4 separate regions of the Homo sapiens genome follow, and all the other regions are linked to region 1. Evidence: fine-mapped expression QTL. A gene starts in region 1. Each other region holds a variant in brackets. All regions are shown on one strand. Distances are between the middles of the regions. Region 1 holds the start of HYI (hydroxypyruvate isomerase (putative)). Region 2 has its middle 6.9 kb from the start of MPL. Region 3 overlaps CDC20 (cell division cycle 20). Region 4 has its middle 20 kb from the start of PTPRF.

The links. PIP is the estimated chance that this variant, and not a neighbour inherited with it, causes the effect. A credible set is the group of variants that fine-mapping cannot tell apart.
Region 2: its variant is the best candidate, but not a certain one, in a credible set for the expression of HYI in whole blood (INTERVAL, PIP 0.75).
Region 3: its variant is the best candidate, but not a certain one, in a credible set for the expression of HYI in whole blood (TOPMed, PIP 0.61).
Region 4: its variant is the best candidate, but not a certain one, in a credible set for the expression of HYI in whole blood (TOPMed, PIP 0.73).

Annotation. Positions count from the first base shown.
Region 1 is chr1:43,452,332-43,456,342 of GRCh38, reverse strand. HYI (hydroxypyruvate isomerase (putative)) reads left to right here and starts at 2,412. Exons shown (of 8, transcript NM_001190880.3): 1 at 2,412-2,748; 2 at 2,846-2,957. The coding sequence starts at 2,550. It overlaps SZT2 (SZT2 subunit of KICSTOR complex), which reads right to left. Exons shown (of 72, transcript NM_001365999.1): 72 at 2,096-4,011. It overlaps HYI-AS1 (HYI antisense RNA 1), which reads right to left and starts at 2,416. Exons shown (of 2, transcript NR_174945.1): 1 at 2,290-2,416. RefSeq lists silencers at 2,376-2,675, 2,786-2,845 and an enhancer at 3,636-4,011.
Region 2 is chr1:43,328,581-43,333,164 of GRCh38, reverse strand. No RefSeq gene overlaps it. Among named protein-coding and RNA genes, the nearest start is that of MPL, 6.9 kb to the left of the region's middle. The variant G/A (reference allele first, on the strand shown) is at 2,534.
Region 3 is chr1:43,359,389-43,363,388 of GRCh38, reverse strand. CDC20 (cell division cycle 20) reads right to left here. Exons shown (of 11, transcript NM_001255.3): 2 at 3,993-4,000; 3 at 3,751-3,899; 4 at 3,568-3,664; 5 at 3,292-3,420; 6 at 3,000-3,196; 7 at 2,796-2,890; 8 at 2,428-2,656; 9 at 2,144-2,269; 10 at 1,077-1,194; 11 at 186-438. The coding sequence ends at 260. Among named protein-coding and RNA genes, the nearest start is that of CDC20, 2.4 kb to the right of the region's middle. The variant G/T (reference allele first, on the strand shown) is at 1,870.
Region 4 is chr1:43,508,190-43,512,773 of GRCh38, reverse strand. No RefSeq gene overlaps it. Among named protein-coding and RNA genes, the nearest start is that of PTPRF, 20 kb to the left of the region's middle. The variant T/C (reference allele first, on the strand shown) is at 1,978.

The sequences.
Region 1 (4,011 bases):
TAGGCATATTAGCTTTAAGAGACAATGCCAAATTGTTTTCCAAGGAGGTTATAGTGATTTACACTCCTGTTGGCAGTTGTTCCAAATCCTATCCAATATTTGATAATGTGTTTTTTATTTTTGCCAATGTGGAAGGCATAAAATAGAATTTCATTGAGGTTTTGATTTGCATTTCACATGAGTTGTAATATGTTTTACTGCATTGCCAAATGTTATCCAATGATCAAATGAGACTCTGAACTCTGTACTAAAGTTTTTGCCATTATCCATGCAACTATTTACAAGTTGTTGTTACTTTAAAATCACACCTGTGCAAATTATTTGGTTAAAAGTCAAATACGTACCTGTGAAGTGTGCACAATAAAGCAAAAAAAAAAGGCAAATGCAAAGAATCAAAACTTGTGATAACTTAGTGTCATGCCTGTGTTGCAAGGTGGGATAAGACATAGTCAAAGGTGAATAAAGCAAATAATTTTCATGGACATTGCACTCCTTATATATTTATTTGAGCATATTATGTGAAGGTGGAAGGTGTTGTAAGGGAATTAAGGGGAAAGTGAGTCACCTATGTCTAGTTTATGTATAATCTTTACTGCCCTAAGGCATGTCCAAGGAAAAAAGGGGTGGACAATCGGGAGTTGGACACATTTTGTTTCTGACGCAGAGCTCAGCAGCTGTCAACATCATAAATAGAATTTGCATACTCGGAGATCAACAGTGAGGTGGTAATAAAGGAATTACTTCCTCTAGATGTTACTCTTTGTTGTCAATTTTGGATTGCAAACACACTAAAGTTGGGACTGATTACAATGTTAAGCTTAGTGAGGTCTTGATTGGACGAGAAACACGTTCCAAGACAAGGCAAAGGTCCTAGTGTAAAACCAGCTGCAAAAGAGCATGAAATCAGGTGATCAGTGTCAGCTGGCAGCAGTCTGTTCTTGGAGGCAGAGCTGAAGAAACAGAACCTGCCAAGAATTTGGGTTCACCACGGGATCAGGCTGGATCCCTGGTGTCTGAGCTGGCCTCATTTGAGATGGAGTTGAGTGTTGACAGAACAATCAGTGGGAGCTGGGTGTTCCTAATGTTGCACTTTAAGCTTCTCTGTCAAAGTTAGCACAGACGATAGATCAAGATGACGTTTACTCATGAATTGTTGGGATATAAATTTATATTTTTCAAAGGAAATTTAAGATATCAACAACTTAAATATGTTCCTATTTTTGACCATGTAATTCTACCCATAAGAACCTGCCCAATCAGTTGGGTTATTGTAGATGAAAGTAAAATCATTCAAATTATCTCAAGAAACATTAAGAGGCTATACAGAGACAGAAACCCAGGAAAGTCTAAGCATCCCAGCCTTAAGTGCACAGACCTGGGGGCAGCTATGGGTTTGGGCACCCTTGGGATGACATGGGTTTCTCAGGGTGCTACCTCTATTCACAGGACTTGGTTCCCCTCCTTTCCGCTCTAGCTTTTCTTTACCATAGGACTGTCTTATTTCGTTTCTACAGCCCAGTCACCTTCTGGCAACACCACCTGTTGACTCTCAGCATTTCCTTGTTTGAACTCTTGATTGGTTAAATTACCTTTCCAAACGACGCAAGTAAGAGGTTTTTGGCCAGTCTATGGATTGGCTGCCCTGGGATCAGATGACCTCCCTGGTCCAATCAGCTGAGGCTAAGGCTAAAAAGGGACAGCTCACCCATAGCTGCTCCAATGGGGCGGTTTCCCTTGCAAAAGACTAGCGGCGTGAACGGGCAAACACTGTGATGGACATCTCTAGAAAAAGACTCGGAAAAGAGTCAGAGATAGGGACTAAGAAGTGCCTGAAAGTGCGCTTGCAGCGCGCGTGCACACACACGATATCCAACCACAAAGTACAATAATGACTTGCTGCTTAGGTGTGCGACAATGAGCAGCGAAGGCACTGACTTTGAAGGCTATTGGAAAACACGAGGAAATGCTCACAAAATAATATTCCATGAAAAAGAGCTATAAAACAGCATATACCGAATGATCAGAATTTCCAAAGAAAAAAATTGCATATTTTAAAATTTGGACGGGAAAGCCAACAGGCTAGTGGTGTGATAACTGGCGGTATAAAAGTGCTTCTTTATTTGGTCATACAGCTTTCAAATGTTGCTTAACGAACAGATAGCATTTTTATAATCAGAGGAAAGACTCAGTATTAAAGTGCGCGTCCCATCATTGCAACCGGGCCCTCGGGCAGCCAGCTCTCTCTTGCTTCGCGTCCGGCTCTCAGGCCCTGGAGCTCGGCCTCCCTACCTTCTCCAGGCGCGGGTCCTGCTCCTTTTCCGGCCGCCCTCGCTCCGCCCCTTCGCCTCTCCCCGTGATCCCTCTCTCGCTAACCGTAGGCGCTTTTCGTGAAGGCCCGGGTTTTTACAGCACTTCGCTTTTCTAACCACGAACAGTGCTCGTTCGTTCGCAGGGCCAGCAAGGAGAGCCCCGCCCCCGCCCGCCGCCCGCCGCCCGCCGCCCGCCGCCTTTGGATCCCGCGGACTCCGCCCGGCCCGGCCTCCCCAGGCATGGCGCCGCTGCGCTTCTCCGCCAATCTGTCCTGGCTATTCCCCGAGCTCTCCGGCCTCCCCGCGCGGGTGCGGGCCGCGGGCAGCTCGGGCTTCGAGGCCGTCGAGGTGGCCTGGCCGTACGCGGAGACGCCTGAGGCGCTGGCGCGCGCCGCGCGAGAAGCGGGGCTGCGGCTTGTACTGATCAACACGCCCCCGGGTGCGTCGCGGGCCGGGAGGGCTGGGAGGGCTGGGGGGTGCCGGGGCGCGGGCAGGGGAGTGTCCGAGCCGGGGGCTGAGGCCCGTTCTCTCTGCAGGAGACCAAGAGAAGGGGGAAATGGGGCTGGGGGCCGTCCCCGGGAGACAGGCGGCCTTCCGAGAGGGACTGGAGCAGGCCGTGCGGTATGCCAAAGCCCTGGGCTGTCCCAGGTACCCCGCTCCACCCCACCCCCACCCCTGTGACCCATGACCCTGATGCAGGTTCAGGGAGTCGAGGACGCCAGATCTGAGACGCTCAGAAGTCTGAGCCCACTGGTTTATCTCTGCCTCTGCGGTCCTGGTCCTTTGTAAATTGCCTTTTGTATTTTATCTGTCTTATGCCACTCTGTTTGCCACTCTTTCATGCTCACCCCATGCTGGGATCCCATGCTGGGAGCTCAGTCTGCCTAGGCAGATAGGAGAGTAAATATATACAGTGATGCATTTGAGGACAGGCCTATTCCAGGAAGCTGTGGGAGCAGGGTAGGCACCTAACCCTGTCTGGATCAGAGAAAGCTGCTTACAGGTAGTGATGCTTGGACTGTCTTCAAGGAGTGGGCATTGCTTGATGGGCAGGAAGTTGAGTGTTCCTTGCAAGGGTGCTGTGGCAAGAGGAGGCCTGGTGTATTTGGCAGCGTTCCTGAGGCTGGACATGTATGTAGCCTGTTGGGATGGGGAGGCCTGGAATGTCTGCTTGGAGCTGGATGTGGCTAAGATCAGGGGATGATGGGAGGAGGTGGACGGCTCAAAGTGGGGCTGATTCAAATGTCAAATCCTGCAGAGGCCAAACAGGCTCAGAAGGAACTGGCAAGAGGGGATCACTACTGGTCAATGGTGGGGGCAGAAAACAGATGGGAAAAGGCTAAGTAGATGCGAGGAGAGGAAGTAGAGACAGCAGCATGGAATACCTGAGAAGGGCAAGCAAAGGTCAGGACAATTTTTAAAGGTGAGAATTTAGCAGGTTACAGGTTGCGGAGAAGGACCGAGGGAAGGAAAGGTTTTGGAAAGTACTGGAGGCAGGAGGCGGTGGGTGGACACTGAGATGTCTGGGAAAGGGCTTGCCCCTCAGCCATCACTGAAGTGTCTCTGAAAGTGCTGGGATACCTGGGCATCGTGACCCAGGTGCCATGGACTGGAGACCTGGGGAGACGGACGAGGGCTGGCACAGTCAGGGAATCCTGGAAGAGGTGCAGAGAGAGCCAAGGGAGGCAAGGCCTCCAGTCCA
Region 2 (4,584 bases), 120 kb after region 1:
ATGGAGAAACCCCGTCTCTACTAAAAATACAACATTAGCCGGGCAAGGTGGCACATGCCTGTAATCCCAGCTACTCGGGAGGCTGAGGCAGGAGCATTGCTTAAATCCGGGAGGTGGAGGTTGCGGTGAGCCGAGTTTGTGCCATTGCACTCCAGCCTGGGCAACAGGAGTGAAACTCCATCTCTAAATAAATAAATAAATAAATAAATAAATAAATAAATAAATATAATGGTTCCGTTTATACACTTAGCAGCGTGTTAGGGTGCTGTATTTCCCCCACATCTTTGTCAACTTTTTTTGTTTGTTTTTTGTTTTTGATTTGACAGAGTCTTAACTCTGTCGCCCAGGCAGGAGTGCAGTGGTGCGATCTCAGCTCACTGCAACCTCTGCCTCCCAGGTTCAAACGATTCTCCTGCCTCAGCCTCCTGAGTAGCTGGGATTACAGGCGTGCACCACCATGCCCAGCTAATTTTTGTATTTTTAGTAGAGACGGGGTTTCAACATGTTGGCCAGGCTGGTCTCGAACTCCTGACCTCTGGCGATCCTCCCGCCTTGGCCTCTCAAAGTATGGGGATTACAGGCATGAGCCACTGCACCCGGCCAGTCAACGTTAAGTTTTAAGTTTGCCATTCTGATAGTTGACAAATGGTATATCCTTACTCAGTGCTTTTTCTGAGGTTCAAATGTGCTTTTATTTATTTTCTTCCTGCTGGAAATCTTTCTGCAGCTCCACAAGATGAGGAAGGCTCATCCCTCAGTGCTGCAGCACAAGACCCCCATTGCTGGAATCTCCCCCTCAGGATGCTCCATTCACTAGTCCCCATACCCAATCCCCTTTCTAGGCACAGGGCCTTGTTCCCATTGCTTCCCCAGGCACAGACCCTCCCCACTTAGCCTGTTGGAACTTCCTTTGTGATTCTGCCTGCCCCTAAGTCACTATTTCTTGGGAGTCTTTTCTTATCCCCCCAACTATATGCAACTGGGGGAAAAGGCTAATTAAAAAAGCGAAATACAATTTCACATTCCTTTTAGAGGCCCTGTAGCTCTTTTGTGATCAGAAACAAACTGGATGGGCCTTTGGGCATGGCCTTGATAGGAAGCATTAGAGAGCTGAGTTTGGGGGAAATGAAATGGATGGGAATTTTAGAATGTCCTGTGGTAACTCCAGAGAAAACGGAGGAGGGCCGGTAAGTGAAAGATGGCCACCTGAGGAGAAGAAAGGTCAACCAGTGAGAAATTCCAGGTAGGACTGTCTGAGGAGAATTCCAGAATGATGATGCCAAATCCTCAGTATGCTCCCTATTCTGTGAGTGCTTGGCTTCCCTACAGCATGCCCAGACATCCAGTAAAGTGTACTGTACACAAAACCCTCCATTCATGGTGCTTTCGGAACAAAGGAAAAGAGGTAACGACACCTGTCGGATGGAAACCCTTGGAGAGTCCTGGTAGAAACACAGGAAGGCATGTACCTCCCAAAGGATGTGGAATAGGAACTGAGCCATAATAATTAGACACAAATCAAAAGGGTGACCCCAAAGGGCACCCCTTGAAGTCATTTGGGTGCACACACATAACCTTTCTTCCTTTGAGTTCCCGCAGAAACTTGAGCCTCTGTTGGGGGGTTCTTATGTATAAAATGACATGCTGTGCCCCCACTCTAGCTACATAAGAACTGAATCCCCAAGTAGGGACTGTCATTTTTCTTTTTCTCCCCGCCGAGATGGAGTCTTGCTCTGTTGCCCAGGCTGGAGTGCGATGGCGCAATCTTGGCTCACCGCAACCTCCGCCTCCTGGGTTCAAGCAGTTCTCCTGCCTCAGCCTCCAGAGTAGCTGGGATGACAGGCAGGCACCACCACGCCTGGCTAATTTTTGTATTTTTAGTAGAGACGAGGTTTCACTATGTTGGCCAGGCTGATCTTGAACTCTTGACCTCGTGATCCGCCCACCTCGGCCTCCCAAAGTGCTGGGATTACAGGCATGAGCCACCGCATCCAGCCCGGGGACTGCCATCTTAAGGCCCTCCTCCTGGGGTAGGCGCTGGGTGGGAGTGGGCCTGCCCCCTCCTCCCTAACTCCCTCTCTTGCCAGGATCCTGCCACCTAGCAGTGAGGAGCACTTGCTGTTTGCCAGCACTGTGGGAATGCATTGTCTCATTTCATCATACAACCACCCTGTTAGGTGCCTTTGTCCTTACTTCACAGAAGAGAAAGCTGAGGCTTAGAAGGAGTCAGTGAGTTCAAAGTCACTATCAAAGGATGGAGCTGAGATTTGGATTCAGGTCTGTTTGACTCTAAAGCCTGTTCTTTTAACTACTGCACAGATACCTCTGACTAGGAGCATGTTATGGCTGTTTCCTCCATTTTATTCACTCATTTAACATTATAAGCCTGGCACAGGGCATGGTGTGAGTCTTGAGCTGGATGAGTCTGAGTTCAAAACAGGCATCTGGAGAGGTTTAACTCAAGTAAATGGAAACAGGACCAGTAGTTGCCCAGTAGTAACCCCAAGGGAGAGAGCTGCAGAGAACCCAGTTT[G/A]GTCAGCCCTCTGTCCTCTGCTCTTCATGAGACATCCTGGCTCCTGAGTGGTCCTTAAGCTGCTGGGTCTCTCCCTGACCCCAGAATCCAAGGCCCGCTGAGGAAATACAAGGACAGCCCCACTGCAGCCAGCTTCTGGTTTGCCTGCCCTGCCCTAGGAGAGGGCCTTGGGTGAGATAAGAGGATGCACAGCCCCTGGGAGGAGCCTGAGCTGCCTGCAGGAAATCACCCCTTCCCTGGGGGCGGGAGGGGAATGAATGACTCAGGGCCAACTGGTGGGAGTTCTGTTTTTGTGGCCAGGACGGGTTGTAGGGAGGTTCCTCGGATGAAGTACTCACTGGGTTCGCCTTTCCCAGCTGCCTCCTAATGAGGCTTTTCCTCTGGCCTTTTCCATTCTATCCCTGGAAACAAGTTTGTGCTGCTGGGCTGGTCTTTTGCTCCAAGCCCCACCCAACCCAGGCCATCTCCTGTGAGAATATGGCTGTTGAGTGAAGCTGTGAGAACTGAGGCTGGAACAGGTGCAGGCAGACGAGGCTGAGCATTTAGGACTGTGCTCTGGACCTGCAGTTTGCTGACTTGCTTGTATTGGGGTTCTGGGTCTTCAGTGCTACAGTGGGAATGGGGAGACCTTCTGTTGGGGCAGGATATCTTTGGGGCCCACAACCTGGAATGTGGTGTGTGATTGATATATTTGTGGTGAATTTGGAAGTGTACTATACCCAAATCTGGCCCTTTCTACTGCCAGAGAAGCGGCATAGTACTGTGGCTAAGAGAGGGACTCTGGAGCCAGAATATCCAGGTTTAAATGTCAGCTCTTGGCCAGGTGCAGTGGCTCATGCCTGTAATCCCAGGACTTTTAGAGGCTCAAGGCAGGAGGATCGCTTGAGCCCAGGAGTTTGAGACCAGCCTGGGTAACATAGGGAGACCCTCTCTCTACAAAAAAAATTAAAAAAATTAGCTGAGCATGGTGGTGCATGCCTGTAGTCCCATCTACTTGGGAGGCTGAGACAGGAGGATTGCTTGAGCCCAGGAGGTTGAGGCTGCAGTGAGCTATGATCGAATCACTGCACTCCAGCCTGGGAGACCAAGCGAGATCCTGTCTCAAAACAAGAACAACAGATTCAGCTCTGCCTCTTACTAGCTATCAGATTTTAGCCAAGTTACTAGCCTCTCTGGTCCTGTTCTCTGTAAAATGACAATAATAATGGTACCTACTAATAGGATTGTTGAAGACTGAATGAATTAATACATGCAAAATGCTTGGAATGGTGCCGGGTAATTAAGTACTATGTAAATATTAGCTGTTTTTATTCTTTTAGTGACTGGTATCACCACCCACCCATCATATGAACAGAAGCTTGGCAGTGATCCTAGACTCTTCTTTCAGTCCCGTATTCAACCCCTGTCTATTCTTTCTTCAGTTATTTCTTCCAGTTTGCTACCACCACACCATCATTTCACCCACACTACTATATATAGTGGTCTTTCACTGATCTCCTTGCCTTCACTTAAAAAAAATACCCGGCTTGGCCAGGCGCGGTGGCTCATACCTGTAATCCCAGCACTTTGGGAGGCCGAGGTGGGCAGATCACGAGGTCAGGAGATCAAGACCATCCTAGCTAACACGGTGAAACCCTGTCTCTACTAAAAAAAATAAAAATAAAAAATTAGCCGGGCGTGGTGGTGGGCGCCTGAAGTCCCAGCTACTTGGGAGGCTGAGGCAGAATGGTGTGAACCCAGGAGGCAGAGCTTGCAGTGAGCCAAGATCACGCCACTGCACTCACTCCAGCCTGGGTGACAAAGCAAGACTCCATCTCAAAAAAACAAATGAACAAACAGACAAAAAACAACCCAGCTTTATTGAAATATAATTCACACACCATACAACTCACCCATGTAAAGTGTACAAATCAGTGGTTTTTAGTATATTCACAGATATGTGCAACCACAGTCAAATTTAGATCATTTTTATCACCTCAAAAAGAAATCCTGTACCTTTTACACTCATCCTCATATCTCCCCAACTTCCTTCTAGTCCTAAGCAACCACTA
Region 3 (4,000 bases), 93 kb after region 1:
GTATACGTATGTGAACAGAGGAGGTGGGGGAACACAACACGCTTAGCCCTGTCCACAAACAAGAGGGATGGATGGTCCAGGCTCCCACAGGACATATCTAGCTCTCTGATCCCAGTAGAGTAGAGCCCCTAGGAAGGCTGCTGGGACATAGGTCATGAAAGAAGAAAGGCATTAGCTGAAACAGATTTAAAAAAAAAACATGAAGGGAGACATGACTTTATTAGAAAAATAAAAAACAACTGAGGTGATGGGTTGGTCTTCAGCGGATGCCTTGGTGGATGAGGCTGCTTTTGGCTGCACTGGCCTTCTCCCGCTCCCGCCGCCGCGCAGGGTCCAACTCAAAACAGCGCCATAGCCTCAGGGTCTCATCTGCTGCTGCGGATGCCACTGTGGCCCCATCTGGGCTCATGGTCAGACTCAGGACCCGGGATGTGTGACCTGGAGCAAATGAGAACAGTACATACGAATGCTGATGCAGCCATAGCCATAAAGGAGGCACTGGGCCACCCACCTACCTTTTTGTTTTTTTTGAGACTTGCTCTGTCACCCAGGCTGGAGTGCAGTGGCGCAATCTTGGCTCACTGCAAGCTCCGCCTCCTGGGTTCATGCCATTTTCCTGCCTCAGCCTCCCGAGTAGCTGGGACTACAGGTGCTTGCCACCACGCCTGGCTAATTTTTTGTGTTTTTTAGTAGAGACAGGGCTTCACCATGTTAGCCAGGATTGTCTCTATCTCCTGACCTCATGATCTGCCCGCCTCAGCCTCCCAAAGTGCTGGGATTACAGGCGTGAGCCACCGTGCCTGGCCTCCTCCCTTTTTTTTCAATGGTGTTACTGAGATATAATTCACACACCATAAAATGCATCCTTTTAAAGTGTACAGTTTAGTGATTTTTAGTATATTCACAAAATTGTACAACTGTTAAAACTAATTCTAAGACATTTTCAACATTTCCCATTACCCTCTCTCAGCCCCTGGCAACCATTAATGTGTTTTTTCTCTGGATTTGCTTATTCTGGACATTTCAGTCATACATTATGTGGCCTTTTATGTCCGGCTTTTCACCTAGCCACTTACCTTTGAGTTCAGCCACCTTGGCCATGGTTGGGTACTTCCAAATAACTAGCTGGTTCTGTGCAAAGCCATGGCCTGAGATGAGCTCCTTGTAATGGGGAGACCAGAGGATGGAGCACACCTGTGGAGAGGAGCTGGTGTGGGCATGACATATAGCCAAGGCTACTTAAATCAGAACTGAGCCCATTCTAGTGTTAGGCACCCTGCCACATGCTCCAGACTCAGAGTTGAATGATCATAGTCCATACAAAAGTTCCTTGAGAGGCAAATTATAGACACTCGCTGATGTAACCATTTTTTACCTTTACAGTGGGTTTACTGGGACTTAAATCAGGGAGCATCTGTATTATCCATTGGATAGATGAGGAATCAATCAGAAGGAAGTTCAATAGGTTGCCAAAGGTCACATTCAAGTTTAGTAGATGACAGAGCCAGAATTTTAACTTGGGCCATCTGGCTCTAGAGTCCATATCTACAGTGAAGGCTGAATGTGGGGGGAGTGGAAGGAGAGAGCCTCAAGTATCTTTCTAATGGATTTGGATTATATGCCATAAGTGATGGGAAGCCATCACAGGTTTAAGGACAGTACAGTATAACAGACCACAGCATGGAGGATGCATTGCAGGAGATAACAAAGAATGCTTGACACCAGTGAGGAAGCCATTGTAGTGGGCCTCCACTTGGAAGGATGAGGCTGAGGGGAGGGGACAGATGTCAATGATATTTTGAGGTAAAACTGATAGATCCTGGTGAGGAGGATGAAAAATTCTAGGAGGTTTCTCAGATTTCTGAGCAG[G/T]TTCTGCCATTCCAAAGCAATGTGAGACAGGAAGGAACACATTTCAGGGAGGCAAGGGGAAGTGACAAGGTTAATTTGGGACAGATCAAGGTGGTGGTGCCTATAGGACATAGGATTGGAGATAGCCACAGACTGTTGGAAATGAAGCTCATGAGTGAGAGCTGAGTTAGAAGTTTGGGAATCACCAGGGCATAGAGTTGGTGAAGCCATTGGAGTGAATGTAGTTGCCCGGTAAGAATGCATGTGGGAGAGGCAGGAACAGGCAAAAGATTACCTGGGAATGGGCATCCACGGCACTCAGACAGGCCCCAGAGCACACATTCCAGATGCGAATGTGTCGATCACTGGTGCCCCCTCCTGTTGCCAGGACATTGGACTGCCAGGGACACCATGCTACGGCCTAGATGGAATAAAGGTGGGGTCAGCAGGTACTAGAGCCAGACAAGGAGCTCTAGGGGTCACAGATTAACCCAGTCCAATCCTACCATCCCTTCTCCCCTTAACAGTCCCCAGATTATAGGTGAGGGTCTGCAGAGGCTTCAGCCCAACCCTACTCACCTTGACAGCCCCTTGATGCTGGGTGAATGTCTGCAGAGGAACCCAGCCACCCTCTCCAGGAGCACTAGGCCACACATTGACCAAGTTATCATTACCACCACTGGCCAAATGTCGTCCATCTGGGGCCCAGCGCAGCCCACACACTTCCTGGCTGTGGCCACTCAGTGTGGCCACATGGTGTTCTGCTACCCGAACATCATGGTGGTGGATGTGGCCAGAACGTGAACCACTGGAGGAGGAAAGAAGGGAATCAGGTTCTGTGGCAGCACCAAATGCAAGCAAGCCAGAGCTGGTTCAGTTCAGGGGTGTACAGTCAAGGGGAGGGTGGGCAAATATCAGACTACCATAGACCAACAAAAACCACTGACCTGGACAGGATATAGCTGTTCCAGCTTAGGGAGCCCACTCGGGCAGAGTGACTGGTCATATTTCGAAGCCGTTTCTGCTGCTGCACATCCCATAGCTAGAGAGAGAAGCCCACTAGGATCAGAGATTGGGACTTGGCATTAATATCCTCCAGCTGTGCAAGCCCATTGGGACTGGTGAGAATGACAGCACTGGACACGTCTCACCTGCACCTCAGCACTGCTGGTGCCCACAGCCAAGTAGTTGCCCTCTTTGATCCAGGCCACAGAGGATATATATTCCCCAGGCTGCTCCATTTGCAAAAGCTGCAGGATGTCACCAGAGCTTGCACTCCACAGGTACACACTGTTGTCCAGTGCCACGGCCAGTACATTCCCAGAACTCCAATCCACAAGGTTCAGGTCTGTCAGAGGTGGAGAGAAGAGCATGAGCTTCCTTGTTTGTGTGGTCCCAGGCCCTCTTTCTCCATGCATGAGGCGAGGATAAGGATGCACTTACAATAGTCATTTCGGATTTCAGGCGCATCCAGGATACGGTCTGGCAGGGAAGGAATGTAACGGCAGGTCTTCCGGCTGGAGCCAGGAGTGGCCTTTTGGCTGTAGAGTACTTTCAGTCTGTTCTGATAACCTGTGGCAACGGAGTGAGTCTAGACGCTGGGAAAATCAACACCTCCCTTGCCCTCAATCTTAGATAGGAAGAGGAGACAGATATCTGTGCTCAGCCCTGGAGATGAACTGACACCTCCCTCCAGGAACCAGGAACTTCGGGTCTTACCCTCTGGCGCATTTTGTGGTTTTCCACTGAGCCGAAGGATCTTGGCTTCCTCTACATCAAAACCGTTCAGGTTCAAAGCCCAGGCTTTCTGATGTTCCTGGCATAAAGGGTAGTGAAGGAGCAAGATGGTATTATCCAAAGAACAGTCAGGTCCCGTGCCTTAAGCCCCTCTGGGACACATACCTTCTTGGTGGGCGTCTGGCTGTTTTCAGGCTGGTTCTCCTTGCTCAGGAGGAAGCTGGCCACCTCCATCTGGGCAGCACTGCGATGGGGGATATAGCGGTCACCGCCAGGTTTGCTAGGAGTGGTCTGAACCTTGGAACTGGATTTGCCTGGGGCGGAGAAAGAGAAGACAGTCTGACCAGGCTCCCCAGGGAGAAAGTATGAAGGCTGCTCTCACTCAGTTCCTTTGGCACCTCACTGACCAGGAGTT
Region 4 (4,584 bases), 56 kb before region 1:
GGAACAGTAGGGATCAGCTCACCCTGCTGACCCACCTAGCCCTTGCCTCCCTCACCACTCCCCCTCAGAAGGTGCATTACTCAAGATTCTTTCTGTTGCACCTGAACAAGAAAGGACAATATATTGGTTGACATAACTCAAAAGCCCAGGGTGTGGAAGAAAGTTTAAATTGTGCATTGTGCTTTTAATGTGAGTCCGTTATAACCAGTATTTGTTTTTCTTGTATAACTTATGCAAGGGGGAAAAAAAAACACTTTACAAATACTTTTTTTCCCAACACCAAGAAACTATACCAGCCTTGTACTGCTGTTTGGTTTAAATAAAACAAGAGCACTGAAGTCATACTCAGTTCAGGTGAAATATTACAGGGTTGCTGGAAAGTTCAATTCCTTATAACGAACTTACAAGGAGTAAATACAATTTTCTACAATAAACAAGCATCATAGTCTCAGGGTTAAGGGTTGTAAAACAATAAACCATTGCAGTTAGAGTAGAATGTCAGAGGAGAGCTTCATGCATACAAACTGCTCAATATCATGATGACAAGGTATAAAATAAGAATAAATGTAATTTGAAGTAAGATCTTAACTCCATATGGTTAATAGTCTCTCTCTTTCTCTCTCTTTCTGCGTGTGTGTGTATATGTGTCTCTCTTTCTCTGTACTTTCTACCTTTCACCTTACTCCTAATTTTTGCCACACAAAAAATTATGTCCAGTCCAGTGCTTTGCATTCTCAAAAGCACTGTGTCAATAACTATTCATTCTCTGAAGATTCCTTATTTATTGGGATTGAAACCTCTGGTTTCAATTACAATGTTAAACAAAGATGAAATAATAGACTGGTGCTTATAATATTTTATTTTCTCAAAGCCTAGACTAGATACTCAGAAATGGCTGGGTTCAAGGACTCATATAACTGTCATCACGTTTCTCTCTGTTTCTGTGCCTGTCTCCATCCCCCTCCATCTCTCATCTTGGTTTATTCTCTGGTTCACATTGCTTGTTGGCCTCATTCTCTTCTATTGCAGAATTATTCCTTCACATGGACAGTGAAAATGGCTAAGGCAGCTCCATCTTCCACTCTCAGAGAATACAGGAGCATTTTCTTGATAGTTCTGGCAGAAAACTCCCAGGGAAGATTCTGATTGGCTCAGCTTGGTCATGTGCCCATCTGTGAACTAATCACTACGGCTAGAGATTGGAAATGGAGTAGTCTGATTTGCAGGCTCATGTCACACACCCACCTTTGGGTCTTGAGGATGAGGACTGAGTGGGGATCAGTGCCCCCTAAGCCACATGGAATGAGGGAGAGGTGGTTCCCTAAAGGAAAGAATGCCAGCAGACAATCTTGATCTAGGACAAACAGATGGAAGGTGGTGTTATATCAGGTCGATGGGGATAATAAAATTGTGATGTTGCTCATCAATGGCCATTTGGCAGTAAGGCCCAATACTCTATGAACAGACCAGCTTTTTTTTTTTTTTTTTTTTTTTTTTTTTTTTTTTTTTTTTGAGACTGAAATACTCAGGCTGAAATACTGAAATACAGTGGCTTGGTCATGGCTCACTGTAGCCTCGACCTCCCAGCCTCAAGTGATCCTTCCGCCTTAGCCTCCTGAGTAGCTGAGACTACAGGTGCATGCCACCATGCCCAGTTAATTTAAAAAAATTTTTTTTGTAGAGATGAGTTCTCAGTATGTTGCCCAGGCTGGTCTTAAACTCCTGGGCTCAAGTTATCCTCCTGCCTCGGCCTCCCAAAGTGCTGGGATCATAAGTGTTAGCCACCGCAGCAGGCCCAGACCAGCATTTTTAATGCTGATATGCGTTATCAGAATACATCTAAGGAATGTGAATTTGGAGCACCATTCAGGTGTGGGCTGTTGCACCCTTCACTTACCAGCACTGGATTGGGTATTGGGAGGCATGCTCAGGGGATGCTCCAGTGGCCTGTAATTCCAATGTTGTTTTCATGTGCTG[T/C]GAAGGTGCAGCTGCTATGTTACAAAGGTCATGTCCTCGTATCACCGAGACCATCTTTAATGAGGGAGCGTAGACCATTTGGAATGGCAAAAGGGTCTGGAAAAGAGGCTTGGCTGACAGCCTAGGGCAATGCTCAGAAGCTGTACTTATAGCCTTGAATTATATAACCCAAATCTACCTCTCTGCCCCAGATGAATGTGGTTGACTGGCAAAGAGCTTTGCTAGGAAGATGTCTAGCTGTGGTTGACAGTGAAAGGGAAGAAGTAGGTCTCTTGGCAGGAAGGGTACAAAGCTTCTCTTATGGCCCGAACGCCATTCTCTAGGAATGACAGAAATTGCCCTAATTATTAGGTATTGTACAGGATTCCTTGTGCCTCATACATGGTCTGTGGAAGCAGTTGGTACTGTTTCAAAAAGGCTACCCTGCGGCACTGAGTCCACGCATGATGATTTTAGGCCTTGGGGAGGGAACAGATGCTGGGGCTAATTAGGGCATGATTCCTCTGGCCCAAGATGGCAGAGGATGTCCAAATAAAATGTGACACCTGCGCCCCAGTGCAGTTCATAGAAAACACTGCCCACCAACCCGCCCTTCTGGAGATGACTCAGCATGGGATGCTTTTTGAAACTGGCACACCTTGATTGCTGTCTTCTGAAACTGGACAGTCAAGTCTGGAAGGCGTACTTCCTCCCATGCCCAGCTACCCCAGCAAAGATCAAGAAGCATACTCGGTGGCAGGAGGGTGTTGGGAAAAGTTCTTATCAGTTTTTGGATTTTCTGTTTTGAGATCATCTCATCAAAAAATGGTGAGATTCTAAGAATTATTTTACCCGCAGAACTTCAATTGGCAAGACTAGAATTGCTCCCCAAGGGGACTCCCCAGCCCAAGGGACTGAACAGAACATAATTAAATGTGTTTGGCATGCTCTATGCAGATCGGATAGGGCCTTGGGGCTGGTGTGAAGATGTTCTCATCCACACGCTGCCCCCGGAACGGTGCTGCTGACTGAGCACTCTCTATGGTGATAGTCGGGCTGTAGCCATGATCACTTGTTGATCTTGTTTTGGGCTTGGCAACAAGGAGACAGGGACAGTCTCATTCAGGATGCCACCAAGCTGAAGGATAAACTCCAAGTGGTTTACGGCTTGTCACTGCACAGAAAACAAGTTCAGAGCCTGTAGAGCAGACATCTGTTGTTTTGGCCTGCTCCAAAGCCATTTATCCTTCCCCCCGGTCTTTACTTGGGGAGTCACATCTCAGCCACTCTCAGTCTTTGCAGTTTAGGGGGAAGGGCAAGGGCACTAACAACAGCCTTTAGGCAATGAGAGATAAAGGCACATTCCTGATGATATTGTTCAAGCCAGGGGTTGGCAAACTTTTTCTATAAAGAGCCAATAGTAAATATGTTCAGCTTTGTGGGCCATGTGGTCTCTGTTGCAACTACTCAGCTCTGTGGTTGTAGGGTACAAGCAGCCATAGACAATATGTAAACAAATAAGCACGGCTGCATTCCAATAGAAAGTTATTTACAAAACAGGTGGCAGGCTAGATTTGGCTCACAGGCTGTCATTTACCAACTCTTTGTTTAAGCACCTGGATCCAGCTGAGCCTGAAGCTAACTGCCTCTGTGATTTTTCAGTGAATGAACCAGCAAATCCCCCTTTTTCCCTGTAGTAATTTGAGCTGGTGTTCTGTTATTGCCACTGAAAGATTTCTTGCAATTTATCCAGGTGTAGAGCCAGGTTTGCAGACTGGAGGTTGAGTTTCAAAATGCGTTTGGTGGCCCCAGATAGGCAGAAAATAGCTTAGCAATTGAGAAAATTCCATATCTGAGAGGGGATGGGGCAGGACTCCTGACAGTTTCTAACATGCAGCCAGAGGCCAGGGCTGTTAAGGTGGTATGTCCAAACAGCAAGCCACCCAAGAGAGACCTGGAAGAGTGGGAATCCACCTGTCTGAGGACACTGACTATACCTCCCATGACAAGCTGAACAGGAAATGCCCCAGAGAGGCCAAAGAGAAGCCAGCCTTCTTTTTTGATGAGGCGTGAGTAGGAGGAGATGGATGGTGAGGAGGCGGATGGAGAGACAAAGTTGACCGGTGACCCTTTGAAATGAAAACCCAGTGACACCTTGACCCCAAGTTGGGGCGAGACACCCATACATCTGTGGGGATGTGGGAAGCCCTCTCCACCACACTTTCTTTTTTTGAGCTGGAGTCTTGCTCCATCACCCAGGCTGGAGTGCAGTGGGGTGATCTCAGTTCACTATAACTTCTACTGCCCAGGTGGGGAGATGAACCAAGGCCTCCTAGGGGGCCTCTGGCTAAGGATGCCCAGGTTTTACAACCCAAATCAGAGTTGCGATTCTTGTGCCTCAGCGTCCTGAGTAGCTGGGACCACAGGCGTGTGCCACCATGCCTGGCTAATTTTTGTGTTTTTAGTACAGACAGAGTTTCTGCCATGTTATCCAGCCTGGTCTCGAACTCCTGACCTCAAGTGATCCTCTGCTTTGGCCTCCCAAAGTCTCTCCACCACACTGAATCTGGAGACAGCAAAATATAATGAAGAGGAGAAGAGGAGCATCAAAGGACCAGTGATTCCCTC